Homo sapiens: one gene and its partners. The protein of the gene in region 3 purifies or fractionates together with the protein of the main gene of each other region. This does not show direct contact. Each region holds a gene or a part of one and is shown on either strand. Other genes may lie near its edges.

The links.
Region 1: the proteins of GTF2H2C (region 3) and PTS purify together in Homo sapiens (affinity purification with mass spectrometry; 3 studies listed by BioGRID and IntAct, with this or other methods). This does not show direct contact.
Region 2: the proteins of GTF2H2C (region 3) and GALC purify together in Homo sapiens (affinity purification with mass spectrometry; 3 studies listed by BioGRID and IntAct, with this or other methods). This does not show direct contact.

What each region holds. Positions count from the first base shown.
Region 1 is NC_000011.10:112,221,714-112,229,438, reverse strand, and holds the start of PTS (6-pyruvoyl tetrahydrobiopterin synthase), read right to left. Parts: upstream 3,012-7,725; 5' UTR 2,996-3,011; coding exon 2,913-2,995; intron 846-2,912; coding exon 766-845; intron 1-765. UniProt on the Homo sapiens protein: Involved in the biosynthesis of tetrahydrobiopterin, an essential cofactor of aromatic amino acid hydroxylases. Catalyzes the transformation of 7,8-dihydroneopterin triphosphate into 6-pyruvoyl tetrahydropterin.
Region 2 is NC_000014.9:87,990,138-87,997,862, forward strand, and holds the start of GALC (galactocerebrosidase isoform a precursor), read right to left. Parts: upstream 3,046-7,725; 5' UTR 3,028-3,045; coding exon 2,833-3,027; intron 2,718-2,832; exon of another isoform or gene 2,194-2,717; coding exon of another isoform or gene 2,167-2,193; exon of another isoform or gene 960-2,166; intron 1-959. UniProt on the Homo sapiens protein: Hydrolyzes the galactose ester bonds of glycolipids such as galactosylceramide and galactosylsphingosine.
Region 3 is NC_000005.10:69,577,176-69,584,282, reverse strand, and holds part of GTF2H2C (general transcription factor IIH subunit 2-like protein), read right to left. Parts: intron 5,572-7,107; coding exon 5,481-5,571; intron 5,263-5,480; coding exon 5,175-5,262; intron 4,527-5,174; coding exon 4,419-4,526; intron 1,918-4,418; coding exon 1,854-1,917; intron 1-1,853. UniProt on the Homo sapiens protein: Component of the core-TFIIH basal transcription factor involved in nucleotide excision repair (NER) of DNA and, when complexed to CAK, in RNA transcription by RNA polymerase II.

The DNA of each region.
Region 1 (7,725 bases), on a different chromosome or scaffold from region 3:
GGCAAAAAGAGTGGAACTCCATCTCAAAAAAAAAAACAACAACAACAAAAAAAAACTTTATCAGTGCTTTACACATTAATAACTTTTATGAATTTATGTATTTTAGTTCTGTACAAATACCATTAGATATTACATGTAAGTGAGTACACTGAGACTGAGATACCATAGATTAAGGAAGAGGCTGTAGCTAAACCAGTAATCCTAATCTCCTGACACCTTGTCTGTTTTTTTTTATGCCACCACACCACATACTGTTTTATACTCTACGACTTATGTACCTGTTTTTTAAGGCAGGCTGTACCTCAAAGAATCAAGTCTCTTATCCTTGAACAAATTACCTACTTTCTTCGAACACTGCTGGCAAAGCTTTAGACCAAACCTATTTTTCTGCCATACATTACATTCCTAGGCAACATTCCCCTTTTGTCAGTCATTATTTACTCAAAGAATAAAATCTAATTTTAACATTAGCCTTGGCCATACCTAATCAGAAAGAAACTTGTTGTGTACTCTAGGACAAAGAAAAATGCTTTAAACCATTCATTGTTTTGGACTGTTTGTAAGAGTTGACATTGCAAGGTAAAACTTAACACACACCCAACCAAGACAACAGATCCTTTCATTCTGAACTCCCATTTAATTTCTCATTCAAGGCTCAAAGCATTCACACTGTGTCCGTAAGTTTTCCCATTCTTTATGTCTACATTTGCTGAATACTCTTTCATCCTTATTGAAGGGCTGAAATGTCATCAGTTTTTCTCTCACCTTTATAATTGTGCCCATGGCCATTTGGATTGTTGCATTTCCCAAACAGTTTCAAGTTTTCTTCATCACTTAGAAATTTACTGACCAAAAAAAAAAAAAAAAGTCAGCATGACACAAGTATCACATTCAAACCCCCTTCTCTGTTCCTTATATTTATTATTTGTACTGATCTTTGAAAAGTTTCCCAATTTATTACTTTAGCTCACCAAAGGGAGAGTCAGAAATCATGTTGATTTTATTACTTACGTATACGTCACAAACCATGGCATATTCCCTAATTAGAAGATTGTACCATACAAATTAGCACAAACAAACCTTAACTTCAACCCCCTTGTTCCACAGCAACTGATCTGCTCATGGGCCTTCCACTTTTCAATTCAACATTACTGAGTGCCTACAATGTAACAGGCAAGTGCTGAATGAAATAACAGCATATAATGATAAACATAGATGGTGATCCGCAAAGTGGCTTACTATCTCATTTCTCTCAGAAGCTAAACTACTCATCCAGAAAAAATAATTTAAAAAAATTACATGACCTGGTAAGTCTCCTATTTAGCAATCTTGCTTTATACTATGTCTCAACTACTGCCTCATGAGAACTTTACCAATCTGTTGAGGAATATTCCAAGCAGGTGAATTTTTAAAATTACAATCTTTGGCTGTCGTCTCAGACAGAAAACAAATTGCTTAATGTTTATACTTATACCCATCCATTCAATTTCGCATCGTCTATGAGACCTTACCACCCTCAGGTGTTTAAGCTTATTATACAACCCCTTTTTTTTGAGATCCTCTTTATTATTCCCCCCAATGTAGTTTGGATGTTTGTCCCCTCCAATTGTCATGTTGAAATGTGATCCCCAGTGTTGGAGATGGGGCCTAGTGGGAGATGTTTGGCTCATGGAAGTGGATCCCTTATGAATGGCTTGGTGCCCTCCCTGAAGCAATGAGTGAGTTCTCGCTCTATTAGTCAATGGGCGAGCTGGTTGTTAAAAAAAGCCTGGCACCTCCTCTCCTCTCTCTTGCTCCCTCACTTGCCCTGTGAGTTGCCTGCTTGCTCGCCCTTCGCCTTCCACCATGAGTGGAAGGTCCCTGAGGCCTCAACAGAAGCAGATGCTGGTGCCATGCTTCTTGTACAGCCTGCAGAACCAAATAAACCTCTTTTCTTTATAAAATACCAGTCTCAGTATTCCTTTGTGGCAATGCAAAATGGAATAACACACCCCCACTTTCTCCTGCTCAGCCACTTCTTGTATTTAGAGTGCTAAAGTCTTTTGCACAAAATTTTCTCAGTGTACCCTCCACAAAATAGGCCAGATTGGAAACCCCATACAAGATCCCTGATGCATCCGTTACCTAGCACAAGCCCTGACAAGCACGAAACAAAACCTGGTTTAGCGAATGGAGGGATGAATCCTGTTAGATAGCGATGGTCATCCTCATTTCACAGACGACGATACGGAGGGCCAGAGGGTGGAGCTGGTTAGTGCGTGGTAAAATTCCTCAAAATCAACTCGTCAGTGCATGCAAGCAGTATGTATGATCGGGATTCAAATCCCAACTATGCTGCTTCGGAAACTGAACGTCTGGGCTCATTTTTTTTTTTTTTTCTCCTAGCCACTAGACCACCAGGGACTGGGTTCATCCAGTCTTTGGTAAAAAAGGGGCTAAAATTTGCCTTGTAATTACATTAGATATGGTGGCCAATGCTCCTGGCATACAAGATTAGCTAACATTTACTGAGTGTCTACGCCGCGCCAGGTACTGTGTAACATAGGCGAGTTTAACACTGCTGAGTTTCACAGCAACCCTGTGGTCTACACCAAGGGACTCCTAGGGGCAGAGACGTTTCTTCGAGTCGCAGAACCGGGTGTGGGCCCCGCACCCAGACGTGGGCCATCGCCCTCCGCAGTCGGCTCCGTTAACCATCAAGCTCCCCCACCCCTCCAGGGCTGGGGACACTCCAGCCCCCATCAGGATGCTGGAGGCCGTCCGAAGCCCCACGAAGCCGACCAGCGCGCGTCGCCCCAGCAGCCCCCGCGCCCCTCCCGGGCCCGACGTCAGCACGCCCGCCGGCCCCGCCCCGGTGACGTTCCGGGGCCCGGCGCCCACCGCCCGCCGCTGTACCTGTGTGCACACCCTACCTGTACAATCGGTGGCTCGCGCTGAAGGAGATGCGGCGGGACACTTGTGCCTGGCAGCGACGGCCACCACCTTCCGTGCTCATCTTCCCGGCGCTGTCTGCGGTGCTCGGCCGGCACCTCCTCCCGCCGCGCGGCCGGTGCCTCCTCCCACCGCGGCTGCGCAGTGCGTGCCAGACGCGCCCCTAGGAAGTGCGTCTCCGCTTCCGCTCTGGCCAATCCCGGCCTCGGGAGACAGTTAAGGGTGTCTCTCGCTATCTGAATCTCTTCGGAGAGCAAGATTTGGGATACCTAAGCATACCCTGGAGTGGTCAGGGTGGGTGGGGACCCTGTGTCCTTGATCTGTTTGCCCCGCCTGAGGTCACGCCACGTAGTTAGGGCCCGTCTGGGCACACTTTGGGTCCTGAGTGACCTCTCTGAGCCTCCTCTCCCACTCTCTCCTGTAAAGCTCCAGTGACTGGTGACTCAATCGGATGAACCCCAGGGCCACAGTCCGCTTTATAGACCAAAAGGAGCAGGAATTGAGCCAGGCGGGCGTGGTGACGCACTCCTGTAGCCCCAGCTATTGAGAAGGAGAGGGATCACTTCAGCCCAGGAGTCCAACCTGGGCAATAGAGCAAGACCCTCGTTTCTCTTTTTCTTTTTTCTTTTTAATTATTATTATACTTTAAGTTCTAGGGTACATGTGCACAACGTGCAGGTTTGTTACATAGGTATTCATGTGTTATGTTGGTTTGCTGCACCCATCAACTCGTCATTTACATTAGGTATTTCTCCTAATGCTATCCCTCCCCCAGCCCCCTACTCCCTGACAGGCACCGGTGTGTGATGTTCCCCACCCTGTGTCCATGTGTTCTCATTGTTTGATTCCCACCTATGGGTGAGAACATGCAGTGTTTGGTTTTCTGTCCTTGTGATAGTTTGCTGAGAATGATGGTTTCCAGCTTCATCCATGTCCCTGCAAAGGACATGAATTCATCGTTTTTATGGCTGCATAATATTCCATGGTGTACATGTGCCACATTTTCTTAATCCAGTCTATCATTAATGGACATTTGGGTTGGTTCCAAGTCTTTGCAATTGTGAATAGTGCCACAATAAACATACAGGTGCATGTGTCTTTAAAGTAGCATGATTTATAATCCTTTGGGTATATACCCAGTAATGGGATGGCTGGGTCAAATGATATTTCTAGTTCTAGATCCTTGAGGAATCGTCACACTGTCTTCCACAATGGTTGAACTCATTTACACTCCCACCAACAGTGTAAAAGCATTCCTATTTCTCCACATCCTCTCCAACATCTGTTGTTTCCCAACTTTTTAATGATCGCCATTCTAACTGGTGTGAAATGGTATCTCATTGTGGTTTTGATTGGCATTTCTCTGATGGCCAGTGATGATGAGCATTTTTTCATGTGTCTGTTGGCTGCAGAAATGTCTTCTTTTGAGAAGTGTCTGTTCATATGCTTTGCCCACTTTTTGATGGGGTTGTTTGATTTTTTTTCTTATAAATTTGTTTAAGTTCTTTGTAGATTCTGGATATTAGCCCTTTGTCAGATGGGTAGATTGCAAAAATTTTCTCCCATTCTGTAGGTTGCCTGTTCACTCTGATGGTAGATTCTTTTGCCGTACAGAAGCTCTTTAGTTTAATTAGATCCCTTTTGTCTATTTTGGCTTTTGTTGCCATTGCTTTTGGTGTTGTAGTCATGAAGTCCTTGCCCATGCCTATGTCCTGAATGGCATTGCCTAGGCTTTCTTCTAGGGTTTTTATGGTTTTCGGTCTGATATTTAAGTCTTTAATCCATCTTGAGTTAATTTTTGTGTAAGGTGTAAGGAAGGGATCCAGTTTCAGCTTTCTACATATGGCTAGCCAGTTTTCCCAGCACCATTTATTTAATAGGGAATCCTTTCCCCATTTCTTGTTTTTATCAGGTTTGTCTAAGATCAGATGGTTGTAGATGTGTGGTGTTATTTCTGAGGCCTCTGTTGTGTTCCATTGGTGTATATATCTGTTTTGGTACCCATACCATGCTGTTTTTGTTACTGTAGGCTTGTAGTATAGTTCGAAGTCAGGTAGCGTGATGCCTCCAGCTTTGTTCTTTTTGCTTAGGATTAATACCGTTTCTTTAAAAAAAAATTTTTAAAGAGCAAGAATTTGAGAGCACAAATAGGACCACGTGACAACAGTCCTTTGGACTGTTGTGTAATGATCCTTACTAAGGGAAATTCTAAAGCCATTCTTATCCACAAGCATGTATGGACCCATTTATTACTCTGGGTTGGCATAGTGTGAATACAGACACCCCTAAACACATATTAGCAATTCTTCTGCCAGTGTAGACACATTGAGAGTGAAAGGATCTTGTTTCCTCACATCTACTCACAAGAGTAACCAAACTACACACAGTTCCCAGAATCATGTCACCTCTTGCTTCCATTCACTCTTTCACTAAATATTTATTGGGCATCTACTATGTGGCTGGCATTGTTCCAGGTACTGGAGAGGACAGCTCCACTCTATATGAGAAAAATCATCACTGTATATGATGAAAAGCAGGACAAGTCACTGATTAATAACAGGCTTGGAAAAGTTTCCTGTAAAAAGAAAGATAAAATCATGGGGGCGATAGAAATAAGCTCAAATGGTGATTTCCCTCAAATATCTCCTATTTACAGCTATATATTCTGTTTGTTCTGCATTAAACTACTAACAGGTTATTTAGCAAACACTCTCCATACATTTTCAGATGTTTGTCTCATCTACCCCATTGTACTGTAAAGAAAAAACTTCAAATAACATTTAGAGATTTTCGAGATAGAGACTGTTTAGTTCAATACTTTCACTTTACAGATAAGAAAATACAGCCACAGATAAGTGAATTACTATTGCGAGATCACTCAGAACAGAAACATTATTTCCCAGGTATGGACTGCCTCAGTGATAAATACTCTCTAACAGTCAGTGGTTACACAAATAGTTGCTCATTCCAAAACCAGCTTAAAGAATCAAAATAAAGTGAAAGAGTAAGAGAAATTTCTGCAAAATTATTTTTATTAATAATACTTGTTTGTTTTAGTAAAATATTTCACTGCATTTGCAGAGTTGAAGTTTAACCTGTTTGGAAATAGGATTGTTGCACACGTATTGAGATGAGGTGTTTAGGATGGGACCTAATCCAACATGACTAATGTTCTTGTAGAAAGGGGAAACTTGGACTCAAAAACTGACACATACAGAGGGAAGATCATGTGAAGACACAGACAACACCATCTCCAAGCCCAGGAGAGAGAACTGGAACAGATCTTTCTTCAAAGCCCTCAGAAGGAAAAAACCAACTTTGATTTCAGACTTCTAGCTTCCAGAATTGTGAGACAATTCATTTCTGTTAAGACCTCTGTGGTACTTTGTTATGGCAGCCCTAGCAGACTAACACACTAACCAATAAGCAAATAACATTCCTCTTAACTTAGCTTTCAGTGCCTTGAGATCAACAGCCATTTAGGTATAGTTCTCCCTTCACTCTTGCAACATTTACTGGCTTGTGCTTGGCTGCGTTGTCTCAGAAGGCTAGCTTCTACTAAAAGATCCCATAAGGGCCCCTGGCCAGCCTTCCTGCCTCAACTCCCCTGCTGTCTCCAGGGGCAGGTGGCAGGCATGGGTACCTGCATTTCACTGGAGTGGGTTCTTGGATCTCTGAGGGGAAGGAACAGCAGAAGAGGCCCTTCTTCCTCACCCAAGATGCAGGTGGTTGGGGCCAGGAGTTTGGACCCTCCAGGTCTTGGGGGAATAGCTGGGTAATACCTGGTGTCTGAGCGATTCTCTGCAGACCCTTCCCCTCCTCAAGGACCACCCATCCTCCTTTCAGCCCCCTTTATGGGGGCCGGGCAGCTCTGGAGCCAGCCACAGAGTCTCTTACAGAAGCAAGGCCTGGAGTGGCCTGCACCAAGAAGCAGGGTCAGGGTTCGTGTGCTCCTCCTCCTGCCACAGGGGCCGCACATCCCATTGCCCCACTTCTGCTTTCTGTCTCCCTCTGTCTAGCTTCTAGGGCAGGAGCAGGCCCCACCTAGGGCTGCAGGCAGTTTGGCCTGTGCCAGCACGGGCTCCTGTGCCCACCAGCCTCACAGGTGCTGTGCTTTGTGCTCTTGGCTGCTGTGCTGGGACAGAATGGGATGCCAGGAAGAGAAGAAGAAGAAAGGGGGTGCAGTCTGAGGCCACCACCCTCCTTCCTATCTAAGGGAGGGCTGAAGACAAGGGGCTGGCATTCAGTGGGTAACAGAAAGGAGAGGCCCCTTGAAGCTGCTCAGTCAAAGGGCCCCTGTCCCTCCTTTTGCTCTCCCCAGGACTAAAGACCTGAAGGGGCTGGGTGTGGGGCTGGCTTTTGGAGTGTCAAGGTGAATATGTGGGAGCAGAGATCATGAATAACTCAGGGCAGTGAATGGCGCACCAAGGGCAGGGCTGTGTGTGGGAGGCTGCGGCCAAAATTGCCTCAGCTCCTCCCCCTCAGGCTGGGAGGCTGGGGGCTGGGGGTGGGGGTGGAGGGTCTCAGCTCTGCTGCCCCCACCCCAGTACTAGCCTAGCTTCCCAAGCTGGGGCTTAGAGGATAGTTGGCTTCCTGCCTCTCTCCACTAAAACAGCAAGTCTGGGAAATCCTGGGGCGAGTGGAGTCAACCCACACCCCAGTTGCTGGCAGAGACTGAGACTAAAGCATCACTTAATAAATACCCCCAAGCCCCCCCACCAAAAAAAAGATCCCATAAGGTACTCCAATGGACATATATTGGCAAGGTAGGCCCCATATCTATCACCTTCTGGT
Region 2 (7,725 bases), on a different chromosome or scaffold from region 3:
CCCCGGCACTCCTTTATTTTTCTGACTCACCTCTTAGTTCCTTAAGGACATGGACTGTATCTTATTCAAGTTTGTATCCTCATTCTTTGTTATTCAATAAACACTTATTAAATATTTTATGGGTCTTTTGTTGCACTGGTACTGGCAACATAAATAGGAGTCTTTGAGTCAAATGGAGTTTGTATCCTGATTTCATCATTAATAAGCTATGTAATCATAGGCAAATTATTGTAAAGTGGGCTATCTTACTCATTCAACTGCTGTAAGACTAAAATTAGATGTATGTAAAGGACTTGGCACATTACCTGGCACATAGTAAGTTCTCAATAAAGGCAAGTGTTATATACACAAATTTTTTAAAATACATATTTCTCAAAGAGCTTACAACCTAGCAGAGGCTCCAATATTAAAATAGGCACTCTTTAAATGAACACTGTATAGGCACACTAATATATCCTTGACCCTAGGTAAACAATGCTTCCTGTCCTACGCTACGCCATTAATACTGTGCGTTTTGCTGTCTAGGGTTTCTTTTGCCCTCTATGCACTCCCACATTTAACAGAGAAAGTATCGGCTTTAGGCAAACACACCAATCATGTTATTGCAAACCTATAGCCACACCTAACACAACAGCATAAGTCAAAGGCAATATAACCAAATGTTAAAATGCACCATCTAGCAATAGCAAATCACGGGATTACTAACCACACTGCCTGAATGAGGCCTGGAACTGTTTACAGGCCCAGGAAAAAGCCTTGGGGACATTTCATCATTCAGTGGCCTTGAAATAACTTCCTCCTCCCTAATCCCTGAAAATGGTTATTAACCAAAATTAGTAATGTGCAAGACATCATCCTAAGTACTTTAGGTCTATCCTCACGGCGCTCCTACCATGCAGGTATAACTGTATCCCAAAAAAAGAAAGTGAGGCAGAGAGGAGTTATAATAGATAACCCACCAAGGCCACACAGTGAAGTGGCAGAACCCAGAAGACACTCTTGGCAATCTTCTCTTTAGTCTACATTCTTTTTGTTTTGTTTCGCTTTGGTTTGGTTTTTGGGTTTTTTTGTTTGTTTGTGTTTTGAACGGAGTCTCACTCTGTCGCCCAGGCTGGAGTGCAGTGGTGTGATCCCGGCTCACTGCAACCTCCGCCTCCCGGGTTCAAGCGATTCTCCTGCCTCAGCCTCCCGAGTAGCTGGGACTACAGGCGCGTGCTACCAAGACTGGCTAATTTTTTGTATTTTTAGTAGAGACGGGGTTTCACCGTGTTAGCCAGGATAGTCTTGATCTCCTGACCTCGTGATCCGCCCGCCTCGGAAGCCCGAAGTGCTGGGATTACAGGCGTGAGCCACCGTGCCCGGCCCTACATTCTTAACTACTTACTGTACCATACCGCTTTCCCTCTCTGACATGAAGATTAAATGACAGCACTCTAAACACTTACTGGCACAACCTGGGCTAGGAACCAAGGACTCCACAAAGAAGTTTAAAGTGGTATGCAAATATAATGTTGCAAGAATTTTCATTATTTAGTGAGTTCCTATGAGGAGTAATGAACTATATAGGGATACTAATAATTGTATATTCTATCAGATTAGGTAGGAGTTTCCTACTTTGAATTACGAAATGATTCTTCTCATCTTAGTAATTTTAAACTGGGCTTAATAAACCTAATGGAAACAAAGACTTCCATTTTTCGGTAAGCTCTTACCCTAGATATAGTATCACAAGTAAAGCTATAAAAAAGATGGGGCCTCACTCCATGAAATATTGGCTGTTTCAGGTTTAGCCCAAAAACATAAAAAGGAGAATAGTAGTAGCAAAGAATAAATGCATTAACTCATCGGCCCACAGGTTTCCCCTGAAATACACATCAGCACGGCTGGAGAGATTGCAAATTAGGGAATGAAAACATAAAAATCAAAAAGGATCAGCTAACTCCAGGGGGAAAAAAATTTCCCCTAGCAGAAGGTTATATCTTGTGGTCACACTACAGACCAGGTCATCCTTGCAGCAGGCATTCAAGCTTGTTCTGAGTTGAATGTAAGGATGCAAGCTCCATCCAACTCAACCCCAAAAATCCGAGTTCAACCTTAACATTTTCAAGAAACATTAGCCCTAGATGTAATTTCGGATACAAAACCAAAAAACAAAAACCTTCTCACCCAAAGGTCGGCCACCATGAAGCCCATGGGCCCAGAGGGAGTACCCGGTAGTTTCAGGCCGCTCGCTTATCTTCCTTTTAAAGAGACCTTGAGGCACCAGTCCTGCCTCCAAACGAAATCCTATTCGGCGCTACCCTCTCTGGAGGAGCCCATTCTTACCCTGCACTAACAACTGCACGGGACTTAACGACTCCACCACCCACCAACTCCTCCAAAAGGGAGAGACACAGCCAAAGCATCCCACTGGGGCGTTCTCTTTCGCACACGGACGCTCCCGCACTCCCTGGCCCTTTCTGGAGCGACGCTCCCCGACTGCCATCTCCGCGATGAAGACAGCCTGTGCCCCACTGCCTGGGACGAGGGTTCCAGCCCCGGCTACTTCACTACTTAGACCTGTCACTTTACTCTCTGCACCTATACTCTCTGGACCTCCGGATCCTCATTTGTTCAAACCTAACTGCCTGTCTGGTTCGTGTTAAACGAGAAAGCACCCGCCCCAGCCCCGCAGCGGGCCCGCCCCAACCGCCTGCTGACTGGCACCCTAGGGGAATGCGGCGGAGAGTGGAGCCGGTGGAAACGCAGGGCAACGCCGCGGGGGCTTGTGGGGCTGGCCCCACGGGGCGGGCTCTTGCCGCCCCCCGCGTATCCCCGCAGCTTGCCGCTCACCCCGCCGCCGCTGACCGCGCCGATGCCGTCGAACTCCCGGCCCAGCCCGTCGGAGTCGTCGAGCACGTACGCGCCGCCGGGCGCCAGCAGCGCACACAGCAGCAAGGGCACCGCGGCGCGGCCCGCCGAACCCGCGGCCGCAGTCATAGCTTTCGCTCGGCGTTGCCAGGAAGCCGAGAGTAGCCACTCAGCCATTGTGTGGGTCACATGACTCCGGCGCCCAGGGAGGCGGGTCCCGTCGCCGCCACGATAGATACGGGCAGGAGGCCGCTGATGCTGACGCCGCCGCCGCCATTTTGAGTGCGGGTCAAGGGCCTCTGACGCAGCTGGCGGAGTGTTGAGAAAAGAAGCAGCGAGCTTTTTCTTATCGCTCGCGTGTCTGTGGTCAGCTACTGGATTTCACATGTACTTACTGCTGGCTTCTCTTCCGGCGTCACCTGGTGGAGCACTTTAACGCAGGGAAGGTGGATTCCAAGGTCCGCCAAAGGAAGAGGGCCATGAGTGGCCCTACCATGGCTCTTCCCCAGCATCTCAGGGAGTATCTACCTCGTGCGAGGACCAGGCTTGGACACCAGGTCCCGATTCCATTGTCATCTTGGTGGAATCACTTTGCTTTTGGAGCCTGAGTTTTCCCTTATGTGAGATGAGGCGAGAAGAGCAGCAGAGTGAGGGACTGAGAGAAAAGTTAATAAGCACTCAGTACATTTGAATGCATTCCACAAGTGGCAAATAGCTGAGAAGGTTCTCCAGTCTGGTAACTACCCCGGCATATTCAAAGCTTTTAGCCTTGAAGGAGTTAATAATATACCACCTCAAAATATGCTGCTGTGGCATATTGACTATTTTAAATTAAAGGCACTTAAAAACAGCAGGTGCAAGATCACTGTCATGGATATTATGTGTCTTAAAAGGAGGAGATGAAATTCCCATGTGAAAGATGTCTTCCCTATAAAATAACATTGTTATCTTCAAGGACAGAAAGTTGAAGTCGAGGGAAATCTGTCCAAACAAAATTTGTTAATCCCTATCTTTCTAGTCGCTTCTTTACCCCAAGCCCCTTCGCCTTATCATGTTTCACAACTACTATTTTTTGTCCATTTCACTCTATAAGCAATTGGCTCTTAACTGCTGCTTTAGGTCTTTTTTTTTTTTAATGAGGGCCCCCGTGCTATGTAAAATAAACATTTGTGTGGTTGTCTCCTGTCAGTCTATTAATATCTTAAATCAATTTAATACTAGGGCCATGCTGGGACCCTACAGGGACGAAGGTGAAATTTTGCCTCCCCTACAATTTTATAAACTATCTTCCACTGTCAGTTGAAGTGATTCCAGACAGGTAACTCTAAATTGGTAGGAAAGTTGTGAATTGCCCTGAATTTCTGCCACATCCAGCACTGTCCTGAGATTTCTGATTTCCTTGTTATTGAAGTAAATTAAAGAGACTCTGAAGAGCTGCAGAGAAAGATTTTCTGATCCCCAAATTTCTCTTAGCAGAAGTATGGAACTGGTTATCATTGCCTACACAAGCCCCTGAGATACCACAATGGCAAGGAAAAGACCCAGAGACTTTAGGACCTGTGGGATTTGTCTGCAGAACCCTATTTGGAATCTGATTATTTTGCCCCTTAACCACAAACCTAAATCTAAGTTTCAAGAACTCAATTATACTTGAAGGTCAAAGCTCTGGGCAATCCAATAAATATGCACATTAAGAACCCGATATCCCTGGGTTCTTAATGTACATTAGATATGTTTGTTCTTTCTTTCTTTTTGAATTGACTCTACGTCTATCCTGGTTTACTAAGGACAGTCACAACTTTTGTCTAAACATAATTACTGATAATGCTCCTTTCACCCTCAGTAGTCTTCTGGCTTGGATCAGTTAAATAGTCCCCTGTGTATGAACCACTTATTTTCTTTGGTTTCTTCTTTCCCCAGTACAACACGAATCTGAACTCTCTGCCTTGCCACTGCAACCAGTTTATGATGCAAGTCAGTAATTTTCAGTTCTGTGGATTTACTGTTACAGAATTCACTCTGATCCATTTGTTCTAACACAGTATTTTAAGCATGAGCTGGAGCTCCTGTGGATACAAGCCACAGTAACCATTCCATCAAGTGAATGTTAAGCTTCTCTTACCAGCTCTTAACAAGCGCATAAGACCCACTTAATACCGTGACTAGATGGGAAATACCAAGGTGATGACAGAGGAAACTACCTTACACATAAAACTAGGAAGTTGCATGACGATGTATGAATACCCAGCATACACCATCCTGTAGTACGTCATTGTGAAACGGGTCAGTGGTCAGTGGTCTCGTTGTCTGAGGTGTTATCCAAGCTTGTTGTCTCACAACCAAGAGAATTAAGGAGTGTGGACACCAGAGTGAGGTTGAAGAGAAAGTTTATTATATGAAAGAAGAAAGCTTTCTTTCTTTGCCATTTTGCCACTTTTACAGTTGAATCCAAAAGCTTTTATAAGAAACTCCTCTCATCTCTGTAGCTGTTTGTGTAACTTACTTGTAAAGCTATCTGTGCAGCTCCCCTTATCTGTGCAGCTGTGGGTATGTCTTGGGTAAGGATAAAGTTCAGCTTCTCTTGTTTGTGTAACTGTGGGTTCTAGGTAATCACCCTCTCCACCCCCATGCAAGTTCCCACAGAGCCCACCATGTATGTGCCTGAAAAGGGGAAGAAACTTTTTCCTGGGAACCTGCTAATCACACAAAGAACAAAAGGCTTCTATGTTGGGCCTTCCTTTCTTATCAGGGCAGCTGTTGCCTGAGTTTTCCCCAGGCCACTCTATGTGTGCCTGTAGCTTGATTTTTCAGGCTGTCTTTCTGTTTAAAAGAATTTTACCAAAGACCAACTTTAGCTGTCTGCCCAACTAAGTTTTCCCTTTTCTCGTCCCTCAATTGCACCTTGTAGTTGGAATGCACGCCACAAATATTTGAGCAATGTGTGAAGTCTACAAAAGAGGAAGCATAAACTCTAATGGAAAAGGTAGCCTCACTTCCAGGAAGTCCCAGTAGTTCCTATTAGTTCAGTTACCAAAGAAATTGCTTACCAGATAAATATTTTTTGTTTCTAATTTCTGATCTATATTCATGAGAGCAGACATGAGGTAAGAAAGTTTCTAATAAAAGGCCAATAAATACATGCTGACAGAAATCCTTGGAGTGCTGGGCACGGCACTCAAATGTGCTCAAGATGTGAGATAAAGAAAAATGACAGTTACCCCACGAGTGATCATATGCTTAGCTTCCCTTGCGTCTGTGGATCAGGGTCAGTGAGATAAGACGGTAAGAAAGGAAGGTCCCAGTTTTCAGATTTTAAATGAGTTTAAAAAGTAATGACAGTGTTTCTCTCTCTGTCTTTTTAATCTGAAACACTTCAAGAATTTGCATGTCATCCTTGCTCAGAGGCCACACTGATCTCTGTAACATTCCAGTGTTTGTAAATGTGCTGCCAAAGGAAACACGATGATTTTTCTCTTAAATAACAGGTGTTTCTAAGTATCACAACTATACTTCAGCCACCCCAAATCTCTCCTTTTTCTAAATAAAATAATGTGATCAAAATCAAATAGTCTCTTGAGAAGGATCAGAGATCTTGCCTTTTAATGAAAATTTATTGATAAACTCTAATAGCAGTCTGGATTTTTTTTTTTATTTCCCCAAGACTATCATAAAACGGTATGATAGCAGTCTGTTGTCTCACTTCAGGAAAAGGCTTTACTTTTATAAATCAGTCCACCTCCCCTTCAGTCTACCATTGATGGGCATTTAGGTTGATTCCATGTTTTTGCTATTAGGCTGTCAGAAATTCCAGGGCAGAGGCCAAGTTTATTTCTTCTTTGTATGTCTTAAGCACAGTGCCCAAACTGTGCTAAGTACTCAATAAATATTAGTTGAATTGAACTAAAAGACAAATCACTGAATGGTCACATAAGGGGATACGAATAAAGAATTATTTACAAAAGGAGTTGGAAACGTTTCTTAAAGTAGGAATCCCCTGGGACATAAGAGTGTGGAGTGTTTTCTTGAACTGTCCTGTAACATCTGCTATATTTTTTACCTTTTATTTTAGGTTCAGGGTGCATGTGCAGGTTTGTTACAAAGGTAAATTGCATGTCCTAGGGTTGATGTACAGATTATTTCATTACCCAGGTAATAAGCATAGTACTCAATAGGTAGTTTTTTGATCCTTCCCCATCCCCCATCCTCCACCCTTAAGTCGGCCCCAGTGCCTGTTGTTTTGTTGTTGTTTGTGTCCATATGTACTCGATGTTCAGCTCCGTCTTATAAGTGAGAATATGCAGTATTTGGTTTTCTATTCCTGTGTTAGTCTTCTTAGGGTAATGGCCTCCAGCTCCATTCATGTTGCTACAAAGAACATGATCTCATTCTTTTTTTTTTTTTTTTTTTTTTTTTTGAGACAGAGTCTTGCTCTGTCATCCAGGCTAGAGTGCAGTGGTGCGATCTCGGCTCACTGCAATCTCTGCCTCCCAGGTTCAAGCGATTCTCCTGACTCAGCCTCCTGAGTAGCTGGGATTACAGGGTGTGCCACCACACCTGGCTAATTTTTGTATTTTTAATAGAGACGGGGTTTCACCATGTTGGTCAGGCTGGTCTCGAACTCCTGACCTCGTGATCTGCCCGCCTCGGCTTTCCAAAGTGCTGGGATTACAGGCCTGAGCCACAGCACCTGGCCTGTCATTCTTTTTTATAGCTGCATGGTATTCCAGGTTGTATATGTAACACATTTTCTTTATCCATTAATAGACCACTGATGGAGATTTAGGTTGATTCCATGGCTTTGCTATTGCAAATAGTGCTGAAATGACCATCCACTTGCATGTGTCTTTATGGGAGAATGACTTATATTCCTTTCAG
Region 3 (7,107 bases):
GGATTACAGGCGTGTGCCACCAGGCCTGGCTAATTTTTGTGTTTTTAGTAGAGATGGGTTTCGCCATGTTGGCTGTGCTGATCTCGAACTCCTGGGCTCAAGTGATCTGCCCACCTGAGCCTCCCAAAGTGCTAGCATTACAGGCATGAGCTACCGCACCCAACCCTTTGTCTATTAATTCTACCAACTGGGTTATTTCTGGGTATGTTTCCATTCTGTGATTTTTCTCCATTTTATGGGTCATATTTTCCTTTGCATCCCTGGTAATTTCTGCCAGGGACTATGAATTTTGCTTTGCCAGACATTGTGAATTTTGCTTTGTTTTGGGGGCTGGATTTTTTCTTTTTCTTTTTTTTTGTATTCCCTCAAATATTTAAGGGTTTGTTCTGAAATATACTTCATTAACTTGGAAATAGTTTAATCTCTTCAAAATTTGCTTTTAAACTTTGGTAGGCTGGTCTAGAACAGCTGTTAGTCTAGATTTTTCTTTTCTTTTCTTTTCTTTTTGCCTCTGGTTCCAGTTCTTGTGATAGAATTAATTTGATCCCATTACTGTGGACTCTATTCAATGCCTGTCATGTTAAGAGGTATTTCCATACAGACTGGTGAGAACATGAATGTTCTCTGTGTGAGCTCTGGAAACTGTTCTGTCTGCTGCTTTCCAGTGATTTTTTCCCTGACTTCCAGTAGTCTCCTCACACAAAAGGGCTGATCAACGCTCAGCTGCTGACTCATGAGCAAGTCTATGCAGCTCCCCAGAGAGTTCTCTCTGTGCAGATCTTTCCTCTCCAGTACTCTGACCTGCAAAATTATCGCCATCTCAGCCTCCTTGAAAGATGAACTTTGTTTCTTCAACTCAACAACATCTCCAGCCTCTGTGTGCAGCCTGGAAATTCCATCCAGGCAGTAAGGTGGAGTGCTCTTAGGGCCCATCTCATTTGTTTCCTTTCTTTCAGGGATCATTATCAGCAAGGCTTGCTGTCCAACGTCTGAAAACCACTGTTTTATATATTTTGTCTGCTTTTTTTGACAGGAGGGTAAATCTAGTCCCTGTTACAGCTTTTTGGCTGGAGGCAGAAATCTTGTTTGTGATTTTTAAGAATTACTCTCTTAAATTTAATTTTGTTTTATAATTATGTAAAATACAAAGCTCTGAAGTTAAAACAAGGTACAGTAATATTCTATATAACATTTTGGTCAGTGATGAACCACATATATGACAGTGGTCCCATAAAATAATACATTTTAGTTGTACCTTTTCTGTGTTTAGTTAAACAAACACTAGGTGTTACATTACAACTGCCTACATTATTCAGTACACAATATGCTGTACAGGTGTGCGGCCTAGGAGCAATAGGCTATACTATATAACTGCGATGTTAGTAGGCTACACTATCTAGGTTTGTGTAAGTGCACTCTGTGATGTTTGCACAATGATGGTATCACCTAATGACGCATTTCTCAGAATGTGTCCCTATCATTAAGTGATGCATTCAGAAAAGTCTAGGGTCTAACCCTTTGCTTTTCCCTACACACTCACTGAGGTAAACATTAAAAAAAAAAATTTCCCCCTCCACCCCTTTTAAGTTTTTATTATTTCCATACTATTGTTTTTATTATTAACATAAACAAGTATATACATCCACTTACATCTCTACTTTCTTCTTAGGTGATTAGCAGCATACTACAAAATTCTCTCAAACTACTGTTTTACTTAGTAATTTATCCTGAAGATCACTCCATACAAGTATATAGAGATAGTCTTCATTGCCTATCTTTTGAATTTATAACTTAAAAGAAGGAATTAAAAATGTAAAAACATTATTACTGATATTTTCAAGGTCTTTACTTACGCCATGCTGAAAGAGGGTTTTGCATCCTGGTCAGATAAAGAAGCAATGGTGTGCTGAGGAAATCCTTCATAGAAGAAAATGTATTACTTTCTTTTTCCAAGCAAACAGCAGAATTCTAGGACTAAGAACCTAAAAATGTTCTTCTCAAAAAGCCAATGAAGTTGTACAAAATATCACTTTACTGCCTTTCAGATAAGCTTATTATAGCATGATGAAACTGACTAATTCCAAGCTACAAGAAAAAGTAGAGGAAACGGGGGAAAGACCTGTCTATATATGACCTCAGATTCTGAAGTTCATATATATATTTTTCTTTTTTTTTTTTCTTGAGATGGAGTCTTGTTCTGTCACCCAGGCTGGGGTGCAGTGGCATGATCTTGGCTCACTGCATCCTCCACTGCCTGGGTTCAAGCGATTCTCCCACCTCACCTTCCCATGTAGCTGGGATTACAGGCATCTGCCACCATGCCCAGCTATATATTTTCTAACTTAATGATTAACACTACTTTTTAAAGAGGTTGTAATTTTTACATCATTTCTGATAAAACTGAAGATATCATAGTACACCTTCATTTTATCTACGTTTATGCTTTTATGTTTAAAATTTTGAAATGCTCAAATCTTTCATGTAATTTGTTTTCCATATACAATTTTAAATTCTGAAAACATGTTCAGGAAAAGCAGAAACCATTTTTAAAAAGATATATTACATAAAAAATGTAAATGTATCTACATATCAAAACAAATAAATAAAAGTAAAGGCAAATAACCAACAAGAAAAATATTTGCATCGGGTGACTGAGAAGGGTTAACATTCCTAAAGGACTCTAATAAATAAATTATAAATTTAAATAACTTTAAAATGAAATAAGAAAATATATCAGTAAATCAAAAAGATTAGCCAAACATAAGATCTAAAATATATTGAATGTTTACATCAAGCATTATTCTAAACGCATCATCTGTATTAACTCAATCCTTGAAACACACAATAAGGTTGATAGTTACTGACATCATTAAACACATGAGAAGACCGTGGAAAAGAGAGGTCGACTGGTAATATAAAAGGCCAAAAGTAGAAAAGCATTTTATTTCATTAACATTTAAAAACATACATATTAAATAAGGAGATTATTTTTCTATTAAAAGTTATACTTTTTTCAATCTAAATGTAATAAATTTTCATTGTAACATTTTTGTAAAATAGAAGAAAATAACATTTTAAAAAAGTGATCCAAGGCCGGGCACAGTGGCTCAAGCCTGTAATCCCAGCACTCTGGGAGGCCGAGGCGGGCGGATCATGAGGTCAGAAGTTCAAGACAAGCCTGGCCAACATGGTGAAACCCCGTCTCTACTAAAAATACAAAAATTAGCTGGGCATGGTGGTGCCCGCCTGTAATCCCAGCTACTCGGGAGGCTGAGGCAGGAGAATTGCTTGAACCTGGGAAGCGGAGGTTGCAGTGTGAGCTGAGATCGCACCACTGCACTTCCAGCCTAGGAAATAGAATGAGACTCCATCTCAAAAAAAAAAAGAAAAAAAAAAGTGATCCAAAACCAATAATTTCCCCTCCTTTGAGCAATTTGGTGTACTTCCCTGCAAGCTTTGTCTTTGCACAGTTTGTATTACACAGCTTTGATCATCCAGTACAGAGAATTTTGTAGCTTATTTTATTTTTATTTTATTTTATTTTTTTGAGACAGAGTCTTGCTCTGTCACCCAGACTGGAGTGCAGTGGCGCAATCTCAGCTCATGGCAACCTCCGTTTCCTGAGTTCAGGCAATTCTCCTGTCTCAACCTCCTGAGTAGCTGGGATTACAGATGTCTGCCACCATGCCCAGCCATTTTTTGGTAATTTTTAGTAGAGACAGGGTTTCGCCATGTTGGCTAGGGTGGTCTCAAACTCCTGACCTCAGGTGATCCGCTAGCCTCGGCCTCCCAAAGTGCTAGGATTACAGGCATGAGCCACCACGCCCGGCCTTTGTAGCTTATTTTAAAAAATTTTTAATATAAGTGTTTTTCTTTTGTTTTCTTTTTTGAGACAGAGTCTCGCTCTGTCGCCCAGGCTAGAGTGCAGTGGTGTGATCTCGGCTCATTGCCAGCTCTGCCTCCCGGGTTCATGCCATTCTCCTGCCTCAGCCTCCCGAGGAGCTGGGATTACAGGCGCCCGCCACCACGCCTGGCTAATTTTTTGTATTTTTAGTAGAGATGGGGTTTCACCGTGTTAGCCAGGATGGTCTCGATCTCCTGACCTCAAGATCCGCCCACCTCGGCCTCCCAAAGTGCTGGGATTACAGGTGTGAGCCACCGAGCCCGGCTTAATATAAGTATTTTTCTATAAACACAGTTTATACCTTTCTAGCCTTAAAAATAAAGAAAGCCAACAGTATTTTCTGGGTGACAGGACTACTGGTAGTTTTAATTTTTTTTTTCCACTTCTCTGTACTTTCCAAAATTGCTTCAACAAGCATATTTTTTCTTTAAAAATTCTTAAATATTAAAATAACTTGTGCAAATGAAAATAGAGAGCCTAGATATGTATTTTTTAAAAACATAAAAACACTTACCCATACGAATAAGTGAGCATTCAGAACTTGAGCTAGCAGGAGGAGGACTAAGATGATGTGTGAGCAACTCTTTGTAATGGCTTTCATCTAAAATAACATGGTACGTGCCTAACAAGATGAAAAGGGAAAAAAAAACACCTTCATAGACATAACGAACTGTACGTTCTATGTAATTCTGTAAAAGTTGTATCATCTGAAAATGTACATTTTTAAAATAATGATTTTAGCTAAATTATCACTTTTAAAACCTTATTTAAGTAATATATCTAAATCAACTTCTCTAGGAATAACTATAATTACAATTGATTATTATTACTATTATTATTATTTTAACATATAAATAGAGACAGGTCTCACTATGTTAACCAGACTGATCTCAAACTTCTGGCCTCAAGTGATTCTCCTGCCTTGGCCTACCAAAATGTTGAGATTACAGGCATGAGCTATCATGCCTGGCCTGTAATTACAATTTAATTAAAGACAAGTTATAAAATCTTTATAAAGAATTACATACAGTAAAATTTCCAGCTTTCCAAGAGTTATAATACCTCCTCTAAATACTGACATAAGTACTGAAAACTCTTTGCATTTGGAGATGATTTCTTATGGAATCAATGATATATTTAAGATGACTGCCCATATTTTAGACTACTTTAAGTTTAGTAGCTCAGAACAGATTAAAACATCCTAATTTAATTAATAAATTATTTCCTACACAGTAATTATAAGCAAATATTAAATAAATTATATATATACCACCAGTTTCACGAGCAAGTACAGTGCAAACGCGAACTTCTGCAGACAATCCAATAACAGATACTCTAATTTTAGCTGCCTTTAGGGTCTTCATAAAATCCAAGTAGATAGATAGTTTTAGGAAAGAAGAAAAACATTTAAGATTTAATGTATTTGAAAAATAAAGAATGCTCTGAAAACTAGTAATAAATTCAATACATCTAACACAAAGATGAATCACACATACAAAAATACATATATATATAAATCAATTTGCTACAGAATTCTCTTTACAGTTATAACTTTGGTTTTGATTTTTTGGTCTACCTTGATTAGATCATAAATATTAGATGGATCGCAAGTTGTAAGGCTGCTAAAGATGATTAGTACTTCTCGACTTGTATGTCCAGGCATGTGTCTTAAAAGAAAGATAAAATACACTCCAATTAGGTACAACAAATTATACTACCAAAAAATTTACCCAGAAAGAACAGTAAACATAGGATTACACATTTAGACTATAGAATATCTCATTTGTTTCAACAATGCAAAGAAAGGTTGTGAGTATATTTTAAACACTTTAATGCAAATTTTTCTAAAATGAGCTATGCACTTCAAAAAATTGTTAATTGATTCATTTAATATTTACCAAGTACTCTCAAGTTCTGGGGGTAGAGTGATAAACAAGACTGACAATGTTCCCGACATCATTAAGCTTACATTCTAGTAGGTTTGTTTCATACAAAGTCTAGAGTATACAATAAAAAATACAACAATATATGGATAAACTTTAAACTAAAATGTGGCAATATCATATGGATCAGCTTTAAAGTGCAGAGATGTGGCTTCAAAACAGTAACACACACTTCTTTCTCAAAGACTATAGTAGTCCCCTCTTATCTGCAGAGGATACATTCCAAGACCCCCAGTGGATACCTGAAATCAAGGATAGTACTGAACCCTATATATACAGTCGTTCTTCGGTATCCTTGGGGGATTGATTTCAGGCCCTCCTATGGATACCAAAATCTGCAGATGTTCAAGTCCCAGATACAAAAGGGCGTAGTATTTGCATATAACCTATGTACATCCTCCCATATATTTTAAGTCATCTCTAGATTATTGATAATACCTAATACAATGTATACTATGTAAGTAATTGTTATCCTCTATTATTTAGGGGATAATGGCAAGAAAAAATGTCTATTTGTTCAGTACAGGTACAATTTTTTTCCAAAAATTTTTGATGCGTGGTTGATCGAATTCCCAGGATTCAGAGGGCTGATTATACCATGTTTTTCCCTATACAGGCATACCTTGGAGATACTGCAGGGTTGGATTCCAGACCGCAGCAATAAAGCAAATATCACAATAAATATTTGCAATAAAGCAAGTCACATGAACTTTCAGGTTTCCTAGTGTATATAAAAGTTCTGTTTACGGCCAGGGATGGTGACTCACGCCTGTATTCCCAGCACTTTGGGAGGCTGAAGCGGGCACATCACGAGGTCAGGAGATCGAGACCATCCTGGCTAACACGGTGAAACCCCGTCTCTACTAAAAATACAAAAAAATGAGCCGGACGTGGTGGCAGGAGAATGGTGTGAACCCAGGAGGCGGAGCTTACAGTGAGCCAAGATTGCGCCACTGCACTCCAGCCTGGGCGACAGAGCGAGACTCCGTCTCAAAAAAAAAAAAAGAAAGAAAAAGAAAAGTTCTGTTTACACTATACTGTAGTCTAGTAAGTGTGCAACAGCATTATATCTAAAAAAAAAAGTACACACCTTTATGAAAAATACTTTATTGCTAAAAATCGACTGAACTGTCAGTGAATAATATCTTTTTGTTGAAGGAGAGTCTTGCCTTGATATTGATGGCTGCTGACTGATCAGAGTGGTGCTTTCTGAAGGGTGAGGTGGCTATGGCAATTTCTTAAAATAAGACAAAGTAGTTT